2 linked regions of the Homo sapiens genome follow. Each later gene encodes a partner of the first gene's protein in a complex. Each region holds a gene or a part of one and is shown on either strand. Other genes may lie near its edges. The genes, in order: PAXIP1 and H2AX. A codon is read from its position in the direction of its gene.

Region 1 (13,451 bases):
TTCAAATGGAATGTGTGTGAATTCCAGAGAGAATTTTTATAGCTATTACGCGGTTCTGCCATTCTTCTTTCCCCTTGGTCACTAGAACTGCCTATGCCTTCTGCAGAGTTTCCAGAAAAAAGAGCAGCAGAGCCACGCCTGCCCAACACATGAGTGAGAAGCGAGCTTTGTTGAAGCCACTGAACTTTGGGAGTTAGTTCCCACAGCATAAGCTAGCAGGGAAAGCTTTTACCACTTGACGCACCCGGGCTTCAAATGACCACTGGATGTGTATATGCTAATAGGAAAAGAGAGAAAACGTAAAGAAACGAAAGTGAGGACTTGAAATAATTTTATCTTAATAGACTTATCACGCAGTTCTTGGGCACTCAACGTCAGTTACAAATCCTGGGGTCACTCTTAGGCTGTAACAATTTCTCGTTATTATAATTTTTAGCAGGGCACACATAGTACGCTGTTTGGCTTAAATCCACTCCAAACATGGGCCGACATCTTAATTTCTAGCTTCCTCTTGACTACCCTTCAGACATACTGAATGTTAGCTTGCTAGGGCTACTGTAACAAAGTGCCACATACTGGCAGCTTAAACAATAGACATTCATTCTCTCAGTTCTGGAGGCCAGAAATCGAAGATGAAGGTGGTGGCCAGGCTGTGCTTTCTCTGAAGGCGTTAGGGGAGAGGCGGTCCTGGCCTCTTCCAGCTTCTGGTGTCTGCCGCAACCTTGGTGTTCCTCAGCTTCTAGACACGTCACCCCAACCCTTGTCGCGGTCATCACTTGGCACTCTCCTGGGTGTCTGTGTTCAAATTTTCTTCTTCTTATATGAACACCAGTGACAGGATTTAGGTCCCATCCTCATCCAGTAGGACCTCATCTTAATGATGGGGGCAAAGACCCTACTTCCAAATAAGGTCACACTCACAGGTACCAGCGGTTAAAATCTGAGTTAAGATTCAATATGTCTTCTTGTTTACCCACAACATGAGTAAACAGTCAATCCCACAGCCAGCTTGTCACAAAGTACTTAACTTTAAATAGCTGGTAAGCAATTTTCTTTTCTGTTTTCACAGCCACAGAATTATGCTAAGTCTCAAATGCAACAACTTCCTCTGATGAGGTCTCAAGATCTTCATACGCTAGACACAGTCTATTATTTCTTATTACTCCCCATTTCTATCTTAAATCATCAGTTATTTAATATCCAAAATGTGCACCCTTTTATTTGGCAATATCAGTATTCTGGCCTCTTTTCAGTGGTTTCTCCTCTCCCTTCAAGAACTATTCCCCTCAGCCCGCTCCATCCAAGAGGTTTCCCCCAGCTATTCTGGCACATGGGAACCTCTTTTCTAAATCTCTGCTGCATTTCTACAGAATCCCACTAGTGTTAGGCTCGTGCATCCAAGTATTTGTTAGTTTTTTGAGAGCAGACACAATATTTTAAGAATTTCTCATTGTCCCTGTAAGAGTTTCCTGTCCATCACAACAGGGTCACCACTGGGGGCAGCACACTCAAATTACAATCATCTAAGAAGGTTTATCAAGGAACTACTTACAAAGGTGTAGGCAGGATGCATGGAGAGTGAAGGGACCTGTGGGGAGAAGCAGGTGAGCCCTCACCACCCTAGGTCCAAGGGATGAGAGGAAGGAAAGATTCCCAGGACCTGGAAGGAGAGAGTTGTATAGAATGGGCTCCTCTGCCAGCTCAAGGCAACCTGATGAGGAACCTGGGAAATAAACACCGTCATACCTCTCTCCTCCCTCCCCTCACTGCCCAGCTTTCTGCTGGGACTCCCCATTGACCAAATTCAACTAGAAGCCAATGTGCAAGGGATTCTACTTATATAATCTGCTCAGGTCAGCACCCAGGGGCGGAGAAAAAGGTGGAGCAGGATGGAGTACAGATCTGACATGGGGAGTGGGACAAATGGAAGGCATCTAACACATCCCTCACATGCCTCAGAGAACTACCTTGTGTTTGCTTTTTAAAAATAATGCTGTTTCTTTGTTGTTTGTTTTTGAGATAGACTCTCACTTTGTGGCCCAGACTGGCATGATCTCAGCTCACTGCAACCTCTGCCTCCCAGGTTCAAGCGATCCTTGTGGCTCAGTCTCCTGGGTAGCTGGGATTCCAGGCGTGCACCACCATGCCTGGCTAATTTTTTTGTATTTTCAGTAGAGATGGGGTTTTACCATTTGGCCAGGCGGGAAAAAGAATACGCTTAATCCTCTATGTATAAAGCCAGTAACCTCAAATTCAACAAATATCTATTGAGTAGCTAACGGGTATTTTTTTTGAAATTATCTTTGAGAATTTTGTTTTATATTACACTAATCTTAATTCATATAAGAATTTTTTTGAAAACCAAAAATGGCAAAAATTGGCAAGATACCATCAATGCCATTTTCTTTTCTTGGACGTGTAAGAAGACCACATCACCCAGCAGTCTCCTTTACAGCTTACGGAGGTGTCAGGAGACCAGGTTCTGGCCAGTGGAAATGGCTGGAGGTATGTGTGCCACTCTTGCTAGCTCAGCCATAGAAACTGCAGCAGGATACTCTACATGCTTTGTCCCCATCTGTACAGCTAACAAAGCCACATGACAGAAGCCAAGTCCCATTTGGAAGAAAGCTGTCCGAAGGAAGCCACCAAGGCGTTATGTGCAAGAAACTTTCTTTTTCGTTTTTTTTTGAGACAGAGTCTAGATCTGTCACCCAGGATGGAGTGCAGTGGTGCAATCTTGACTCAATGCAACCTCCACCTCACCGGTTCAAGCCATTCTCGTGCCTCAGCCTCCCGAGTAGCTGGGATTACAGGTGCGCACCACCATGCTCAACTAGTTTTTGTATTTTTAGTAAGAGATGAGGTTTCACCATGTTAGCCAGGCTGGTCTCGAACTCCTGACCTAAGTGATCCACCTGCCTCGGGCACCCAAAGTGTTGGGATTACAGGCATGAGCCACTGTGCCCGGTGGAAACTTTCAAAGTCTTATCCCACTGAAATGTAGTTACAACATGATCTTAATCCGGGTTTCTCAACAGTGGCACTATTGACATTTTGCACGGGTCCTTTGTCATGGAGGACGGTCCCATGCGTTGCGTGATGTTTAGCAGCTTCCTATCCTCCACCACTAGATGCCAGTAGCATCCCCTACCCCCTAGTTGTGACAACCAAAAATGTCTCCAGACGTTGTCAAATGTGCCATAGGGGGCTAAATTGCCCATGGTTGAGAATCGCTGATCCTGTTACCGCACTGTTCTCAGAGTGACGGGAGACAGGTATGGGACGTCGTTTCTAACCTTAAAGGATGGAACATTATAATACGTTATACATGTATTTTAAGATGATTGCTTCATTGGAGTACTGTAATTGTTAAATTGGAAACAACAAATGTGCAACAATACAGAATATTGTACATTCAAACAAGGGAGTATTATGTATTCATTAAATGATATAGATATTTATTGACATGGAAAAACAGTCTTGATTTTTTTGAAGTGGCAGAGTATGGGGTATAATTTTTTTTAGGGAAATATATTTATACGGGACAATGTCTAGAAGGATTTCCATAGTGGTTGCTTCTGGGCATAGAATTTGAGGTAATTTACAATTTCTCTTCACTTGTGATTTCTAGTTTTCCGACACTGAATAGCTACATGACACTGGTGGCAGCTGTGCCCCGCAGGTCCACTGACGGGATCTTTCCTGCAGAGAAGCAGTGCTCCTTTGAGTTCGCAGTTTCTCCTTCAACTAAACTATGGCCTGTTTGTGCCTGCAACTGGAGTATTCTGACCCTTTCATGAGAAGGTTAAATGTTGTCTATAAACCCAAACTGAAGGTTTACTAAACATTAAAAATATCTAATTTTAAGGGATGTATGGATAGCTGAACAGGAGAGATGAAGACTGAGACTGTTGTATACAATATAGAAATACATTTAAAAAAAGCCATTTGGAAATAATCTAAGTAACTGCCTCGAGTTTCCACCAGTAAGGGCAATTTGAGTTAAATATCCCCAAATCTACTTTTTTTTTTCTAATTTTTTATTTTTCCTAGGCTTAGGTTATCTAATTTTGCCAAATAGAAAATGAGAAACATATTTACTGAACTAGCACTGGCAGTAAGCAGGCTGTTTAATTCTCCAAAGGCTGATTATCAACAAAATGATCATGCTTTTAATTTACCTGGGGGAAGTCTAAAAATATTAATGCTCAGTGTCATATTTGGAAGTGGTATATGCTTCAAATTAAACAAATGCATAGCTTCTGTTTAATAAACTGATAGCTATCACCCTAAAATGGGTCATCCTTAAAGTGTCACAAAACCAGTGATAAGAATTTTATTTAACTGTGAATAAGATACAGCACTGTCAACATGATATTTTGTTCCTATAACTTTGCATATGGCCATTTTGGGGAAGATAATTTCTGAGTTTACCGCTTGCCTTTAAATATTGACTTGCCATCTTTACGTCCTCTGCTAGATGGGTTACTCTTCATGATGTCAGGATGCTAGTTTTTTAGACTGCCTCAGAGCATCCTTTATCCACATGAAATTAACCTAATGTAAACATTTTTATTTTTCATTACTGGCCAAGCAGTAGTATTGGAGACTCAGTGAGTGAGTGTGACACTGCCTCCAGGCCTTCCTGATGCTGTTGCCGTAAGATCCACTTGTGTGGACCGCCTTGCACAGTTCACGTGTGATATTTTACAAATACTGACTAGGTGATGGGGTTTTAAATAGCAGATTTATTTATTTATTTAGAGTCTCACTCTGCCACCTAAGCTGGAGTGCAGTGGTGTGATCTCTGCTCTCTGCAACCTCTGCTTCCCGGGTTCAAGTGATTCTCCTGCCTCAGCTTCCCAAGAAGGTAGGATTACAGGTGCACGCCACCATGCCCAGCTAATTTTTGTTTTTAGTAGAGACTGGCTTTCACCATGTTGGCCAGGCTGGTGTTGAACTCCTGACCTCCAGTGATCTGCCTGCCTTGGCCTCCCAAAGTGCTGGGATTATAGGGGTGAGCCACCACGCTGGCCTTAAATAGCAGGTTTCTTAATCCCGCAATTTGCCTTACCATCAGAACCTGAAGTAGGGTAAGCTTGTTCTCTTGAACGTTACAAATTGCTTTCTTAATTCACAAAATAAAATACCTGGTTGAGGTCCACTTCAGGTCTTTTAACATAAAATCACATGCTTAGTTTGTGTTTAACCAAGAAAATCAAAGGGAGGGCCGGGTGTGATGGCTCACGCCTTTAACCCCAGCACTTTGGGAGGCCGAGGCAGAAGGATCACAAGGTCAGGAGTTCAAGACCAGCCTGGCCAACATAGTGAAAACCTGTCTCTACTAAAAATACCAAAATTAGCCAGGTGTGGTGGCACGCACCTGTAGTCCCAGCTACTTGGGAGGCTGAGGTGGGAGAATCGCTTGAACCCAGGGGGTGGAAGTTGTAGTGAGCTGAGACCACGCCATTGCACTCCAGCCTGGGTGAGAGTGGGACTCCGTTTCAAAAAAAAGAAAGAAAAAGAAAAGGATAAATAAGTTCTCTCACACAGGTCGATAAAAAGGCAGCATGATCTGTATTTGGATCTAATGTATTTATTACACTGATATATGCCCAACATAGAACATTAAACATCAGAATGATAAACATATACCAGAATATATCAAATATATTCTTAGGTATTAAAAGGTTTCCTGATTACAAAGGGTGTCATAAAAATTTAAGGATGGATGACAAATTCTTGGTTTTTCCTTCAGGCAAGCACTGAGTGTTTTTATTACAGGTTGAGTAACCTTTATCTGAAATGCTTGGGACAAAAGTATTTCAGATATTTTTGATTTGGAATATTTGCATATACATAATAAGATATCTTGGGGATGGGACCCAAGTCTAAATGGGAAATTCATTTGTTTCACATACACCTTACCTTACCCACATAGCCTGAAGGTAAGGTTATATTATATATTTTAAATAATTTTGTGCATGAAACAAAGTTTTGATGGCGTTTTAAAAAAAAATGTTTTCATTGTTTTTTTTGTTTTGGTTTTTGTTTTTTTACAGACAGGGTCTGGCTATATCGTCCAGGCTGGACTCAAACTCCTGGGCTCAAGCAATCCTCCTGCTCAACCTCCCGAGTAGCTGGCACTACAGGTGCCCACCACACCAGGCTTGATTGTGACTTGACTGTCACCCAGTGTCACATGAGGGCAAGTGTGGAATTTTCCATTTGTGGGGTCACGTCAGTACTCAAAAAAATTCGAATTTTAGAGCATTTTGGATTTCAGATTAGGAATGTTTAACCTAAGTTTGTAAAGGAAATTTTTTAGCCTTAGAATAGGGATGTTTCAGATTGTTCAAGAGACAAATGAAAGACTAAAACAACCAGAAAACATTGGAATGATAAATCATTAAGTATATTTAAATGTGCGTTGTTTACCTCCTGCCCATACAAAACCACTCATGACATACATACAAATGTAAGGACAAAACTGTAGTCACCTGATTAACAAGAGCCAGAGTTCATTGCATGCTGATCAACGAACCAACACAACTTTTATCATACACTAAAAAAAGGGTAGAACAAAGGCCAACTTAAAGCCTGGAAAGTGATCTAATCTGTTAAATTAGTGTACCGCAGAGTAATTTTGAAAGCCTTCTCGTTTTGTTTTGTTTTTTTTCAGAGACAGAGTCTCGCTCTGTCGCCCAGGCTGGAGTGCAGCGGCGCGATCTCGGCTCATTGCAACCTCCCCCACCCGAGTTCAAGCCATTCTCCTGCCTCAGCCTCCTGAGTAGCTGGGACTACAGGCGCGTGCCGCCACGCCCGGCTAATTTTTTGTATTTTAGTAGGGACGGGGTTTCACCGTGTCGCCCAGGCTGGTCTCGAACTCCTGAACTCAGGCAATCCGCCCACCTCGGCCTCCTAAAGGATAGGATTACAGGCGTGAGCCACCGCGCCCGGCCCCTTCTCTTTTTTAAAACCAATTTCACTAACATTTACTTAAAAATGATTTTCTGCTTGGCAGAAGTGACTTAAGGCATGTGGGGGAGACACTGCGGGTCTGTCTCAGATTCCTTTAGACACCAATGCTCCACAGTTTTACGACTAGGTAATAGTCCGATAATCACCCATGAGTTCCTGGACTCCGGTTTGTTGTGGGATTGGAAATAAACGAGAAAGGCTGCGTTCATCATCATGGCCTTAATTTCTTCTCCCAACTTCCGGTCGTGCAGGTGTCTTGGGCAGGTGATCCCGAGGCCACTCTGCCGTGTTCTGTGAATCTTGGCGGAAGGGAGGCGAGCTGTAAATAAAAGCGTGACCATTAGAATCGCCGCTGTGTAGTATTAACCTGTTGAGCGCGGGGCTTCCCGGGGCTGGAGCTGCACCGCGGGCTCTGCTGTCTGGGACTCTCCTCCAGCGCGGACCCGACAGGACGCCAGGGACCAGGCCGGTCCGGCCGGGACAGCGGGGCCTCGGGCAGCGACGGGGCCGGGCCTCCCCCCAGCACGTCCCCAGCTCGGGCACTGAGGCCTTGCGGAGACCCCAGGACTCGCCGCGGAGGCCACCAGTGCGCGTCTCGCGTGGCGCTACGGCCTCGGGAATTCCGTCACGGCATAGCCGGGTCCAGCGCGGTGTAGACCGGGGCCCCGCGCCTTGCTCGGCCAGAGCGGCTCAGGTACTACTCCAGGTCCGGCCGCACTCGCGGCCACTGCGAACAGCCGGGACACCCAATCCCACTCCGCCCAGGGCCAAGAAGCCCGAGGAGGCCGCAGAACCGCTCCCGCTCCCACTCGCGGCCCCAAGGCCCCACCCCCCCCTCCGCCGCGCGCATGCGCCGCCCCCGAGCAGCCGCATGTGGCGACGGGAGGGGCCTGCCAGCTCCCCTCCTCCCCGGGACCGGCTCACTCCGGCCCCGCCGAGGGGGGAGCTGGTTTCCCCTCGTCCTCGGGGCCCCCTCGTTGCAGAGCGGCGGCCACGGAACCGCAAGGGCCAGAGCGGGCTGCCGGCGCCAGCTACCCCGGAGCCGTGGCTGGCGGCAGAGGCGCGGGGCGTCACTGGAGGCCGGGCGGCTCCTCGGCGCTCCCCCTCGGTGGCCGGGGCGGGATGGTGCGTCCCGCAGGGCGCGCGCGGCTCCCGCGCTTCGGGCGCTCGGCGCGGGCGCGGGCGGGGGCGCGGAGGGCGGGGGAGCGGACCCCGATTCGCAGGACCGGGCCCGGGCTGCGCGGGCAGGGCCGTTGGCGGGGCGAGTGGGGGCGCCGGGCGCCGCGGGGGCCGGGGGCGGGGGGTGGGCGGGGCCGGGCGCCGCCGCGGAGCCTCCCGGGCCGCCGCGATCATGTCGGACCAGGCGCCCAAAGTTCCTGAGGAGATGTTCAGGGAGGTCAAGTATTACGCGGTGGGCGACATCGACCCGCAGGTACCGCGCCCGCCCCTGCCGCGGCCTCCTCCCCCGTCCGCGTCCCCGTCCGTCCCCGTCCCCGTCCCCGTCCCCGCTCCTGCCGCGGGCGCGCGCCGGGCGCAGAGCGTCGGGTCCGCCGAGGCCGCTGGCCTGACTGCGCTGAGGGCAGGGGCGACCGCGGGGTGGGCGCGGGAGGCCCGGGCCCGGGGGAGTGCGGGAGGGAAGGCGGCTGGGGCTCTGTACCTCGGCCCCTAGTGCGCGCCCTGAGCCCCCGGCCTGCGGCCCTGGGGTCGCCGCCCCCGACCCACCGGGCCGCCTCGTTCTCTGCTCCTTTGCTGAGCGGGACGGGCGCGGGGTCGCGTCTCCCCATTCCCCGCGCCGGGCGTCTCGGCTCCCGGGAGAGCAGCTCCGAGGGCGGACGAGGGGCGCCGGGATCCCCAGCCGGGGCAGCTCGCGCGGGGACCCCAGCCTCGCTCGGCCGGCGGGGGTCGTGGCCGTGCACCGGCTTGGCCGCCTCCGCCACCCGGGCAGCTGCCGTCCTGTGCGGGGCTGAGGAGCGCTCCCTTCCAGCCTGTGTCCCTGCACGTGGGGGCTGGCATTCGTCTTCCTTGATTTTCCCACTTGGACGATTAATTTTACGGTACCCTGGTAACACCATCACATTACACATTTAATTTTGTGTAGTTTGGGCTCACGCCAAAGGATATTGTGGGTTTTCCTTAGTATTCCTATAATAATATATCTGTTTGATGTCACACAGTTATCAGTCCGTGGTAGGAATGCATCTTAGTTGAATATCCTCTTCAGGTTAATCTTCAAAATATTTCCTTCTTAAAAGTTTAGCTGTACAGTTGTGTTGCCTTGGGTGTGACATCAGTGGCCCCCACCTTGGAGGATGGGGATCCCCAGTGATCAGAGTTAGGCCTGGAAGGGCGGAGACTCATATTTCGCAGATGAACTTGGATGGTGTAGAAGGAATTGTAGAAGGCTGAGTGATCTTGGCCTTCTTGAGGTTCGTCCTTGTAACAACTTTTTGGACCCTTTTTGCCCTGTAACTTTAGGGTAAAGAGACTTCAAGGCCGGGTTTACCCCTGTAATCCCAGCACTTTGGGAGGCCAAGGCGGGTGGATCACCTGAGGTCATGAGTTCGAGACCAGCCTGGCCAACATGGTGAAGCCTCATCTCTACTAAAAATACAAAAATTAGCCGGGCGTGGTGGCGGGCGCCTGTGGTCTCAGCTACTCGGGAGGCTGAGGCAGGAGAATTGCTGGAACCTGGGAGGTGGAAGTTGCAGTGAGCCGAGATCGCGCCACTGCACTCCAGCCTGGGCAACAACAGCTAGACTCCGTCTCAAAAAAAAAAAAAAAGCCTTCTATCTTTGAATTTACAGAGTAAAACAGTTGCTGAACACGGAGCGATGAAGATGAGTGCCTGTAACAGTGTTAGCTTTTTCCAGTATTGATGATTCCCCCGCCCCTCTTTTTTTTGTTTGTTTTTTTGTTTTTGTTTTTTGCTATCCACCATTTTTCTCTTCCCCCTCCTTCCTAGCCTTCGTGTTTCATTTTAGGACTTTGGCTCTTATAGGGGACTTGAACCAAATGTTACTTAAAACCTGGAACAAGTTGAACTGGAACCATATTTACTCGACTTTGAATCAAATCTAAGTGCTTAAAAATGTCCTTGGCAAACCACTTTCATCTGAAACAGTATATTTTCTGAAAAGTTTTGAGCCTGGACATCTGATTCTCTGACTCTTATGACTGTGGATTATAAGTTCACATGTTGACCATCTAATATGAGGCAGGCATGGACTAGGTGCCAGGTATAATACAGAGGTGAAGAGGACATGGTACCTGCCCTTTAGCGCCCCTCATTGGTGGGGGAGGGAGCACACCTGGACATATCACAGTACAAGGTGTAGCAGATTTCTCCACTGGGGTGCAAAGTAGACACCACTGAAATGTCACTCAGTAGATGTCATTTCAGTTGGGTTTTGAGATAAGCAGAAGTTAAGAACATGAAGGAATATTTTCATGTGGAGCGTATGTGCTGAGGAATGAAGGCATTCATGCGTTTGGGATACATCAGGATGATCACTATATCTGGAACAGAGTGATATGAGATAAATCTATTAAGATACTCAGTAGTGTGGAGATTGAAGAGAAGCTATTGGTTTTGGCATCCTCAAAGTTCGTGAAAACCGAGTAAAGTGTTTTTGGTAGAGTGTTGGTGGAAGGGGCTGGATTGCAGGGAGTTGAAGAGTGAATGGAAACTGAGAACAGAAAGGTTAGACTCTTCAGGAAGTTTGTCCTGAGAAGGAAATAGAGAAGGTGCCTGAGGAAGAGAGGGCTGGGGAGGGATCTGTGTTGCATCACAAGCGCGTGGAAGGATGTGGGTGACTTTACTGTTTACAGGTGGAGGGAACATAGCTATGGACAGGGAAACTCATGAAGAAGGGAGTAGGATCAGAAACAGACTGGAGGATAGGAAAAGGAGGGGTGCCTTTTCTGAAGACCAGTCGAATGGATGCGTGAAGCTAAAAATGCTTAGAGGTCAAGGGAAGGAAGAAAGGTAAAGTGGCCCATGGCCAGTGACCGCTGTTTTTTCACTTACTAAATATTGAGCCTCTGCTCTAGTTCATATCTATTAGTGGTCGGTAAAGTATTCTGAAAAGGTTGTCTAGCTTGTGGGTGACTTTATTTTTTTTTGAGGTTGGAGCAAAAGTTTAATAAGTGAAAGAAGAAAGCTCTCTGCTGCAGAGAGGGGACCTGGAAGAGCGTTGCCCTGGTGGGTCACTTGAGCTTTGTGGGCACCATGTCACTTTGACAGTTGGTGTGCACTGTCAGCTTAGACACTGCCCACCTCTTCTGAAGCACTTGACTGTCGACTGTTCCTTAACCCTCACTTCCTTGGCTTCTGTTGACGCTCCTCTCCTGTGATACTGCACTTCCCTACCTGTCCCTGAAGTATCAGTTGCTGTGTCTGCTCTCTAGCTCCCCTCCCATTCTGCACTGCGACCACCTTCACGCTCATGGCTGTGGCTCCCATCTATGTAACAATGCTGATGACTTTCTGTCAGGGAGATCCACATCTTTTCCTAGCTGCAACTGGATGCCTCTTGCCAGATATTAACACGACCCCCAAAGAATGGCATGCCCAAACTAAAACACGTCCTTGTGTCCCCACCTGCCAGCCTTCTGATGTGTTCCTCAGTGAGTGGTACTCACCACCATTTCAGTCTGGACTTTGCTCTTTTGCTTATACCCCTTCCAGACACCAAGGCTTGCCGATTCTCTCACATCTTCCTCCTTTCTGCCCATCAGGACATCACTTTAGTGGATGCCTCTTTCACCTGGGTTATTGCACTTGTTTCTTAACAGGTCTCTTGTCTTTAGTCATCTAGCCAACCAAACACAGCCAGCCCACCCAATCCTTTCTTTTCACATGGACTGTCATCTTTGTATGAAATCTGTGCTACTTTTCCTGTGTGAAATCCTTCAGTGGCCCTGCATATACCCCAGAATGAAGCACAGACTTTTTTGCATAGTGTGTAAGAAAGCCCATTTACGGTCTGCTCTGTATTCACCTGTTCAGTGCCTTCAACACTGCTCCCTCTTCCTCGATGTATGGATTTTTGCCTAACACCCAGACGTTTATGAGGGTTCTGCTCACATATCTTGTCTTCCAGAATCTTTCCCTAATTATGAAACTCCCCATGTCCCAGTCTTTAAGTTGGAAGCTCAGGAGCACCATGTGCGTGGCCCCACCGCAGCAGTGGTTGTGCTGTCTCCTGGTTTGTCCAGCCCATCTGTCTTGAGGACAGACCATGTCCACTACTGGACTCACAATAGCCTCCATTACTTGGTCATTGACTTGGTCAGTGAATCAAGATTTGCTGCTTTTGATTGTCCCCGAAAGTTTCATTGGCATATTATTCAGAGTAAAAGGCTGTTAGTTTTTATGTGGGGAATATGGTGTGTTTTTATTAAAAAGTACTATTATGCCCAATAATTATTTCTGTAATTCAAGAGTACAGTACAGTATTGCCCATTTTAATTTGTGTGGATTTTCTTGTTTTTTAGGTTATTCAGCTTCTCAAGGCTGGAAAAGCGAAGGAAGTTTCCTACAATGCACTAGCCTCACACATAATCTCAGAGGATGGGGACAATCCAGAGGTGGGAGAAGCTCGGGAAGTCTTTGACTTACCTGTTGTAAAGGTCAGTAGTAAACATAATTTGTTTTATATCTTTTCCTCAGTATCTTGCAAGCAGTACATTGAAGTTTCACTATAGCTCTTTTCAGGGTTTTTGCTAAAGTCCTGTTTTATTTTATTTTTATTTTTTATTTATTTATTTTTTTGAGCTGGAATCTCGCTCTGTTGCCCAGGCTGGAGTGCAATGGCACGATCTCAGCTCACTGCAACCTCCGCCTCCCGGGTTCAAGTGATTCTCATGCCTCAGCCTCCTGAGTAGCTGGGATTACAAGTGCCTGCCACCACGCCTGGCTAATTTTTGTATTCTAGTAGAGACAGGGTTTCAACATGTTGGGCCAGGCTTGTCTTGAATTCCTGACCTCAGGTGATCCGCCTGCCTCAGCCTCCCAAAGTGCTGGGGTTACAGGCATGAGCCACCGTGCTGGCCCTAAAGTCCTGTTTTGTGTGGAAAGTTGCCAGATAACTGTGGACATCTTTAACGTCTGAGTAACTTCCCTTAGCTTCAGGTCCTTTCAGCTAAACCAAGGTAGAGCATGGCTTCTGTATGTCGTAAGTAATCCTAGGCCATCCTTTATGCCTGCTGCAGAACTCGTCCCACGTTACCACTGCCTGGAAGTTTTCTGAGCCAGGGAAACCTGTCATGGGAAACAGATCTGATGCCTTGAATCAGATGGGTGTTTGAATTATTGTAAGAGTGTATTTCATTCCAAAAGCAGGCTAAGGCCTGTCGGGAGGTAACTCTAGGACAGGGTTACTTTCCATCCCGACTGTGGCAAGGTGTTCTGAATTTCAGTTAGCTGAAGGGCGTCCCCCATTAACTATGTTGTGGAACTCCTTTCTGAC
Region 2 (7,149 bases), on another chromosome or scaffold:
GATCCTTTCTGGTAGCCCTTCATCCTATCGTCCGTCCTCACCACTTTTCTAAAAATTCTTAAATCCTCCTCCCCTAGGTGGCACTACTTCTTTTCCTACCATCTCTCCCCGCAGGAATCCTGTACTATGTCTACATGGGGCTGCTGGCAGTGTTCTGTACCAATGCCATCAATATCCTAGCAGGAATTAACGGCCTAGAGGCTGGCCAGTCACTAGTCATTTCTGCTTCCATCATTGTCTTCAACCTGGTAGAGTTGGAAGGTAGGTGGGATTGGGGGTGGGGAGAGAGAAGTCTGAGTGTTAAAGGTGTGGCCTGATATATGACTTTGGGAAATTCAGGGGAAAAAAGCAATATGCATAGTAATTATAGAAGATAAGGGAAGCTACTTACTTTGCAAATAACAATGCAGATTTATTAAAAGTGAGAAAGAAAAATAGTAGCCCTGTCATTTATAGCTGGATTGGCACTAATAGCTAGGCCATGATCTTCTCCCATTGAATATAAACAGTTTCACAGAACCCCAACGTTACACAGGGTCATTCTGTGACCGTGATGGAGCAAGACTAAAACTAGACCCCTCCCTCTGTAATCATGTTTGAGCACAGGCAAAACCACAAGAACACTGAGCAACCCACAAAATGGCCAAGATCCCCTCTCTCGGCTAACATGAGCGACTGCTGCTGCTCTCCAATAACAACTCAGTTCCTACCACTTCTTTTTTTTTTTTTTTTTTTTTTTTTTGAGACAGGGTCTCCCTCTGTCATGCAGGCTGGAGAGCAGTGGCGCGATCTTAGCTCACTGCATCCTCTGACTCAAACGATCCTCCTGCCCCAGCCTCCCAAGTAGCTGGGGCTACAGGCATGTGCCACCACACCTGGCAAATTTTTGTATTTTTTGTAGAGACAGGGTTTCACCATGTTGCCTAGGCTGGTCTTGAACTCCTGGGCTCAAGTGATCTGCCAGGCCTCCCAAAGTGCTGGGATTACACTCTTGAGCCACTGTGCCCAGCCAGTTCCTACCATTTCTTAAATAAACATTAAAATGCTTGATCATAGAATTACTCTTGCTTTCTTTTCTTTTCTTTTTTTTTTTTTTTTTTTGAGACGGAGTTTTGTTCTTGCCCAGGCTGGAGTACAATGGTGCGATCTCGGCTCACCGCAACCTCCGCCTCCCAGGTTCAAGCGATTCTCCTGCCTCAGCCTCCCTAGTAGCTGGGATTACAGGCATGTGCCACCACGCCCAGCTAATTTTGTATTTCTAGTAGAGACGGGGTTTCTCCATGTTGGTCAGGCTGGTCTCGAACTCCTGACCTCAGGTGATCTGCCTGCTTCAGCCTCCCAAAGTGCTGGGATTACAGGCGTGAGTCACCGCACCCGGCCATGAATTACTCCTGCTTTCTAACAGCACCCAGTCCAGAGCAAAACTACTTTCTTTCACCCTCTCCCAAAATACCCAAAACAAACGCTACTACAAGCCCCTCCTAACACCCTCTTACTGAGACATTCCGTGGTTCCCAATGGTGTGTGGTTTCTGAAGTCTCCCTTTTTACAACAAGTCATTAAACCTAGCTTTGAACTATAGATGTGTTTCTGATGGTCTTTGGCTGATGAACATCAACAAGTGTTTATTAAAGCTAAGTACTTTTTAAACACTATCTTATTTAAATCTTGTAATGGTTTTATGTGGCAGATGTTATAATCAGCCCTGTTTTACAGATGAGAAAACAGGCTTAGAGAAGTTAAATGTGTCATGATCAAGATCAAGGTCACAAAGCTAAGAAGTAAAGTTGGTATCCAAACTTACATCAGAATGGGCTAAACCAAATTTAAGATAGTAACTAGTTTGGAAGGCTGCACGAAAGAGGTGGAATATTGGGAATTGCCTTGGGTGACATAAAAGGAGTATTGAGTTCTTAAAAGTGACTTGGGTGAGGTGGATGATAACAGCTGTAAACAGAACTTAGACAAAAATAGGACCAAGGTTTGCAGAGGAAGTGGGTATTAACTTTTCCTTCTTTCTTCCTTGCTTCCAAAGGTGATTGTCGGGATGATCATGTCTTTTCCCTCTACTTCATGATACCCTTTTTTTTCACCACTTTGGGATTGCTCTACCACAACTGGTAAGTAGGCCTGTGGATAAGGGGACAACTACCTGAACACATGGCAAAGATGGCCCTTATCATAACCCACCTTGTGGTGGTGAAGCTAAACCTGCGCATACCTCTATGGAGTTTTCTGCGTCTTCAGTTGGTCGTATTCTGAAATTTCTCTCTACCCAGTAGTAGTTAGGGATGAGTGCGTGGAGGCCCCAGGAATAGATGAATTCAGGGCCTTGGATCCTGCAGAGTTGCTGCACAACTGGAGTCTCCTCTGAGTCAGAACTAGGGTCAGGGCTAGTCCAGTGCCCATAGGGTGTGATGTGAGAGAAGGGATTGGTAATGCCTCTTGCCACTGGCTCGGATCCTCTTCCCCCACACAGGTACCCATCACGGGTGTTTGTGGGAGATACCTTCTGTTACTTTGCTGGCATGACCTTTGCCGTGGTGGGCATCTTGGGACACTTCAGCAAGACCATGCTACTATTCTTCATGCCCCAGGTGTTCAACTTCCTCTACTCACTGCCTCAGCTCCTGCATATCATCCCCTGCCCTCGCCACCGCATACCCAGGTAGCCGCTTTTTGGCTTGAAATGGACATCATAGCCTTTTCACTTGGGATATCTAATGCCAGCCTATACATTTGCTGTGCAAAGGGAGTGGGCCCAAAGAAGGGCTATTTCCATGTGAGTAGCCCTTTATAACTTACAAAGCACATTTATTTGCATAATCTGCTACAGTGGTTCTGATAACAGTAAGCAGCAGAGCCAGAAATAGATCTCAGGTTGACTCCACATTCAATGCTCTTCCTATTAGCCACAGGGAGGAGGGTTCAAATAGTGGCCCAGTCACATGAAGCTATCTTCCCCCCGCAGACTCAATATCAAGACAGGCAAACTGGAGATGAGCTATTCCAAGTTCAAGACCAAGAGCCTCTCTTTCTTGGGCACCTTTATTTTAAAGGTAACAGGGTAACAAGGAGGTAAGGCCCTAGGCTGCCATCCTGACCTTGAGGAATGGGGAACCTAGTCCTACATCAGATCCAAGGGGAACTTGAAAGCATTAAATAGATCCACATTCCTAAAGCATAGGTATTAGCTGAGGTTCTCTTCACCTCTGGTCCCTCCAGGTGGCAGAGAGCCTCCAGCTGGTGACAGTACACCAGAGTGAGACTGAAGATGGTGAATTCACTGAATGTAACAACATGACCCTCATCAACTTGCTACTTAAAGTCCTTGGGCCCATACATGAGAGAAACCTCACATTGCTCCTGCTGCTGCTGCAGGTGAGGATGGGAATCGAGTTTATACCTCCGTGTCTCCCTTTCTGCGTGATTCTTACTCCAGTCCATTTCTCCTTGCAGATCCTGGGCAGTGCCATCACCTTCTCCATTCGATATCAGCTCGTTCGACTCTTCTATGATGTCTGAGTCCCTTGATCATTGTCCTTTACCTCACAGTCTCTAGGATTCCTGACTCAGGCTGACCTCTCTCTCTGGTCCCAGACTGCCTCCTTGCCCAGGCCTCTCTCACTCTTCATACTCCTCCAGATTTTGTTCTCAGCATTTTCCTTTCTCTGTGATCATTGGCATCCTGGGCGTTTCTTGCCCTCTGCTGACTACTGATTGGATTTTACCTATGGCTTTCTGCAACTTGCTACTCTCTCCCTCTCCATCCCATCTTTGCAGCCTCATAGGGTGGGATACAGCAGCTTTTTTTGCAGTTATCCACACTCACATTTCAGAGTCCTGACTCTCAAGGAACCACTGGTTTTTGGGATAGAACTTGGGCCAGGGCTAGGAACACAGGCTCCACGGTGACATGTCATTTGATTGTAAATTAAGTGTTCTGATTAGTAAGAACTAAGCAGGGGGCCACATGCTCTCAATGGAGACAATAAAGTGTTGTCTTTTTCTTATTGTTTATGTAGGTATATTTCCTATATGGGCATTTTTGGGTAGATTGGGAGGGGTGGTGGGGGTACTTCCTCCAACAGGATGCCTATCTCTCTGCCCCATCAGACCCCGTCTAACAAGAAGTGAACAGAACTGAGACCAAACAGAACATATTGAATAAATATTTAAATCCTGATACTAGAGGTGGCATGGAGGGCCACAAAATTGAAGTTATCCTGTTTCCTGGCATGGGAACAAACTTTCAAAGAGTCACCGGGTGCAGTGGCTCATGCCTGTAATCCCAGCACTTTAGGAGGCTGAGGCAGGAGGATTGCCTGAGCCCAGGAATTCAAGACAGCCTGGGCAACAAAACGAGACTCCGTCTCTACAAAAATAAAATAATTAGCCAAGTGTGGTGGAGCACTTGTAGTACCAGCTACGAGGGAGGTTTAGCAGGGAGGATTCCTTGAACCCAGGAGTTCGAGGCTGCAGTGAGCTGAGATCACACTACTGCACTCCAGCCTGGGTGACAGAGCCAGTGACACCCGGTCTATTAAAAAAAGAAAGAAAGAAAAAAAAGAAAACTTTTAAGGGGTCTAATTTCTTCACTTTTCCATTCTCCCTTTGTCAGGTAGGAGAAGGGAGTAGGGAGTGACTGGACCTGGAAAGGAGGGCTGCAGTAGCTATAATATTGACCCCTTTCCTTTAAAAATCCTACGCCGGCACAGATTTCCCAGACGCTCTCTAGGTGGCCTCAGACTCCACCCCTTTGGTCTTCCGCTTCTGGTTTCCGATTGTAGTGTTTAAATCTCGCGCGCTTTACAAGGATTGGCTACATCAGCGGATAGTTGGCAGTCTGCGTGCTACCCCTCCTCCTCGCCTTTTCTCCCCGGGCAAAAGGTTTTCAAATTCGACCAATCAGCGGGCGCGCTCCCTCAGCCGAGCCGCGACACCCAAGGGTTAACCGCAACCAACCGGAGGCGGGTATTGGAGAAAAGAGCCAATCAGGAGGGCGCAGAGGTGTGTCCTGGGGGCTTATAAAGGCGGCCTCGCGGCGCGCGCGCGACAGCAGTTACACTGCGGCGGGCGTCTGTTCTAGTGTTTGAGCCGTCGTGCTTCACCGGTCTACCTCGCTAGCATGTCGGGCCGCGGCAAGACTGGCGGCAAGGCCCGCGCCAAGGCCAAGTCGCGCTCGTCGCGCGCCGGCCTCCAGTTCCCAGTGGGCCGTGTACACCGGCTGCTGCGGAAGGGCCACTACGCCGAGCGCGTTGGCGCCGGCGCGCCAGTGTACCTGGCGGCAGTGCTGGAGTACCTCACCGCTGAGATCCTGGAGCTGGCGGGCAATGCGGCCCGCGACAACAAGAAGACGCGAATCATCCCCCGCCACCTGCAGCTGGCCATCCGCAACGACGAGGAGCTCAACAAGCTGCTGGGCGGCGTGACGATCGCCCAGGGAGGCGTCCTGCCCAACATCCAGGCCGTGCTGCTGCCCAAGAAGACCAGCGCCACCGTGGGGCCGAAGGCGCCCTCGGGCGGCAAGAAGGCCACCCAGGCCTCCCAGGAGTACTAAGAGGGCCCGCGCCGCGGCCGGCCGCCAGGCCTCCCCATGCCACCACAAAGGCCCTTTTAAGGGCCACCACCGCCCTCATGGAAAGAGCTGAGCCGCTTCAGACTGCGGGGCAAGCGGGCCGCGGCTCCCTTCCCCTCCCCTCCCCTCGCCCGCCTTCGCCGCCCGGCCTCGAGTCCCCGCCCGCCCCCGCTCCCGTCCCGCACCGCCTGCCGCGTCGGCCTCGGGCCCTGCCCTGTCCGCCGTCCGCCCTCCGGTAGGGTTCGGGCCTTCCGGATGCGGCTTGGGCGCTCTTCGGGGACCTCCGTGGCGCGGAAGACCCGAGCCTGCCGGGGGGAGGCCGGCGGCGCCGCACCTGCCCGCCTCGGCGTTCGTGACTCAGCCGCCCCATCCCGAGTCGCTAAGGGGCTGCGGGGAGGCCGCAGCACCTTCTGGAAGACTTGGCCTTCCGCTCTGACGCAGGGCCGAGGTGGGCAGTCCAGGCCGAGAGGCCGGCGGCCCTGAAGGTGAGTGAGGCCCTCGGCAGCTGCAGCCGGGGTGTCTGGTACCCCCCCGGCGTGGTGCTTAGCCCAGGACTTTCAGACGCGGCCGCTGGCCGGGAGGCTTTGGTGGGAGAGACGCGATCGCCGATTTCGGTCTGGCGCCCCTTCTGCGGCCGGGACCCAGGCCTTTCACATCAGCTCTCCCTCCATCTTCATTCATAGGTCTGCGCTGGGGCCGGGACGAAGCACTTGGTAACAGGCACATCTTCCTCCCGAGTGACTGCCTCCTAGGAGGACATTTAGGGGAGGGCAGAGGCCTGCAGTTTGGCTTCACGGCTGGCTATGTGGACAGCAAGAGTCGTTTTCGCGGAAGCCGACTGGCAGCCAGGCCTGTCGGGCCCCCCGACGCCGCCCCATTTCCCTTCCAGCAAACTCAACTCGGCAATCCAAGCACCTAGATACCAGCACAAGTCGGTTAATCCCTGTCTGGACTGAGCCTCCGTTGGCTTCTGAACTGGAATTCTGCAGCTAACCCTTCCACGACTAGAACCTTAGGCATTGGGGAGTTTTAGATGGACTAATTTTATTAAAGGATTGTTTTTTTTTTAAATGGAGCGTTTGTTTTCATTTTGCAAGAGAGTTGTAGAATTAGTGACTTTCTATACTTTCCTGATAATAGGGGTGGGAGGGGCCATGCAATATAAACAGGCTCTACTGTTAACTGAAGGGGCAAACCATAGGAATTTAAGATTGTGGCTCTGTTTCTTGGTGTTCCTGGGAGACAATTTATTCTGTGTGAAATGAAAACTATTGAGGCAGAAGCAGAAAGGACGTACCAGGAGAACTCTGGGCAAAAGTCCCAGCCTCTGAGGTAAGGATGAAAGGGCTTTGTGTTTGTTCCTATCTTCCCGCCAACTCCACACGCGCACACACAACACCTTCAGAACTGGTTTATTAGTAGGATTGGTTACATTCAAAGGCTGTTGCTTGGACTTCTCTAAAGAGATGAAGCCCCCACATACTGAGGAGGCAAGGCAGTCATCAAGGCCCCAAGGTGAGGCAAATCCCTGGAAGGCTTGAACCCTGCAGTTCAGTCTCCCGGGGTAATCA

The links.
Region 2: the proteins of PAXIP1 (region 1) and H2AX are in contact, whole or in part, in a crystal structure (PDB 3SQD), measured with the Homo sapiens proteins. Residues at the interface, in NP_031375.3 of Homo sapiens: Phe871, Thr872, Gly873, Phe874, Pro876, Lys907, Thr909, Arg910, Thr911, Val912, Lys913, Pro986, Glu1050, Leu1053; in NP_002096.1 of Homo sapiens: Gln138 (codon at 5,540), Ser140 (codon at 5,546), Gln141 (codon at 5,549), Glu142 (codon at 5,552), Tyr143 (codon at 5,555).

Annotation. Positions count from the first base shown.
Region 1 is NC_000007.14:154,997,811-155,011,261, reverse strand, and holds the start of PAXIP1 (PAX-interacting protein 1), read left to right. Parts: upstream 1-8,137; 5' UTR 8,138-8,332; coding exon 8,333-8,413; intron 8,414-9,722; exon of another isoform or gene 9,723-11,182; intron 11,183-12,477; coding exon 12,478-12,612; intron 12,613-13,451.
Region 2 is NC_000011.10:119,093,374-119,100,522, reverse strand, and holds H2AX (histone H2AX), read left to right. Parts: upstream 1-5,057; 5' UTR 5,058-5,128; coding exon 5,129-5,560; 3' UTR 5,561-6,649; downstream 6,650-7,149. Other genes in the region: DPAGT1 (UDP-N-acetylglucosamine--dolichyl-phosphate N-acetylglucosaminephosphotransferase), read left to right, coding at 115-261, 2,036-2,120, 2,480-2,668, 2,972-3,059, 3,226-3,525. UniProt on the Homo sapiens protein: Variant histone H2A which replaces conventional H2A in a subset of nucleosomes. Nucleosomes wrap and compact DNA into chromatin, limiting DNA accessibility to the cellular machineries which require DNA as a template.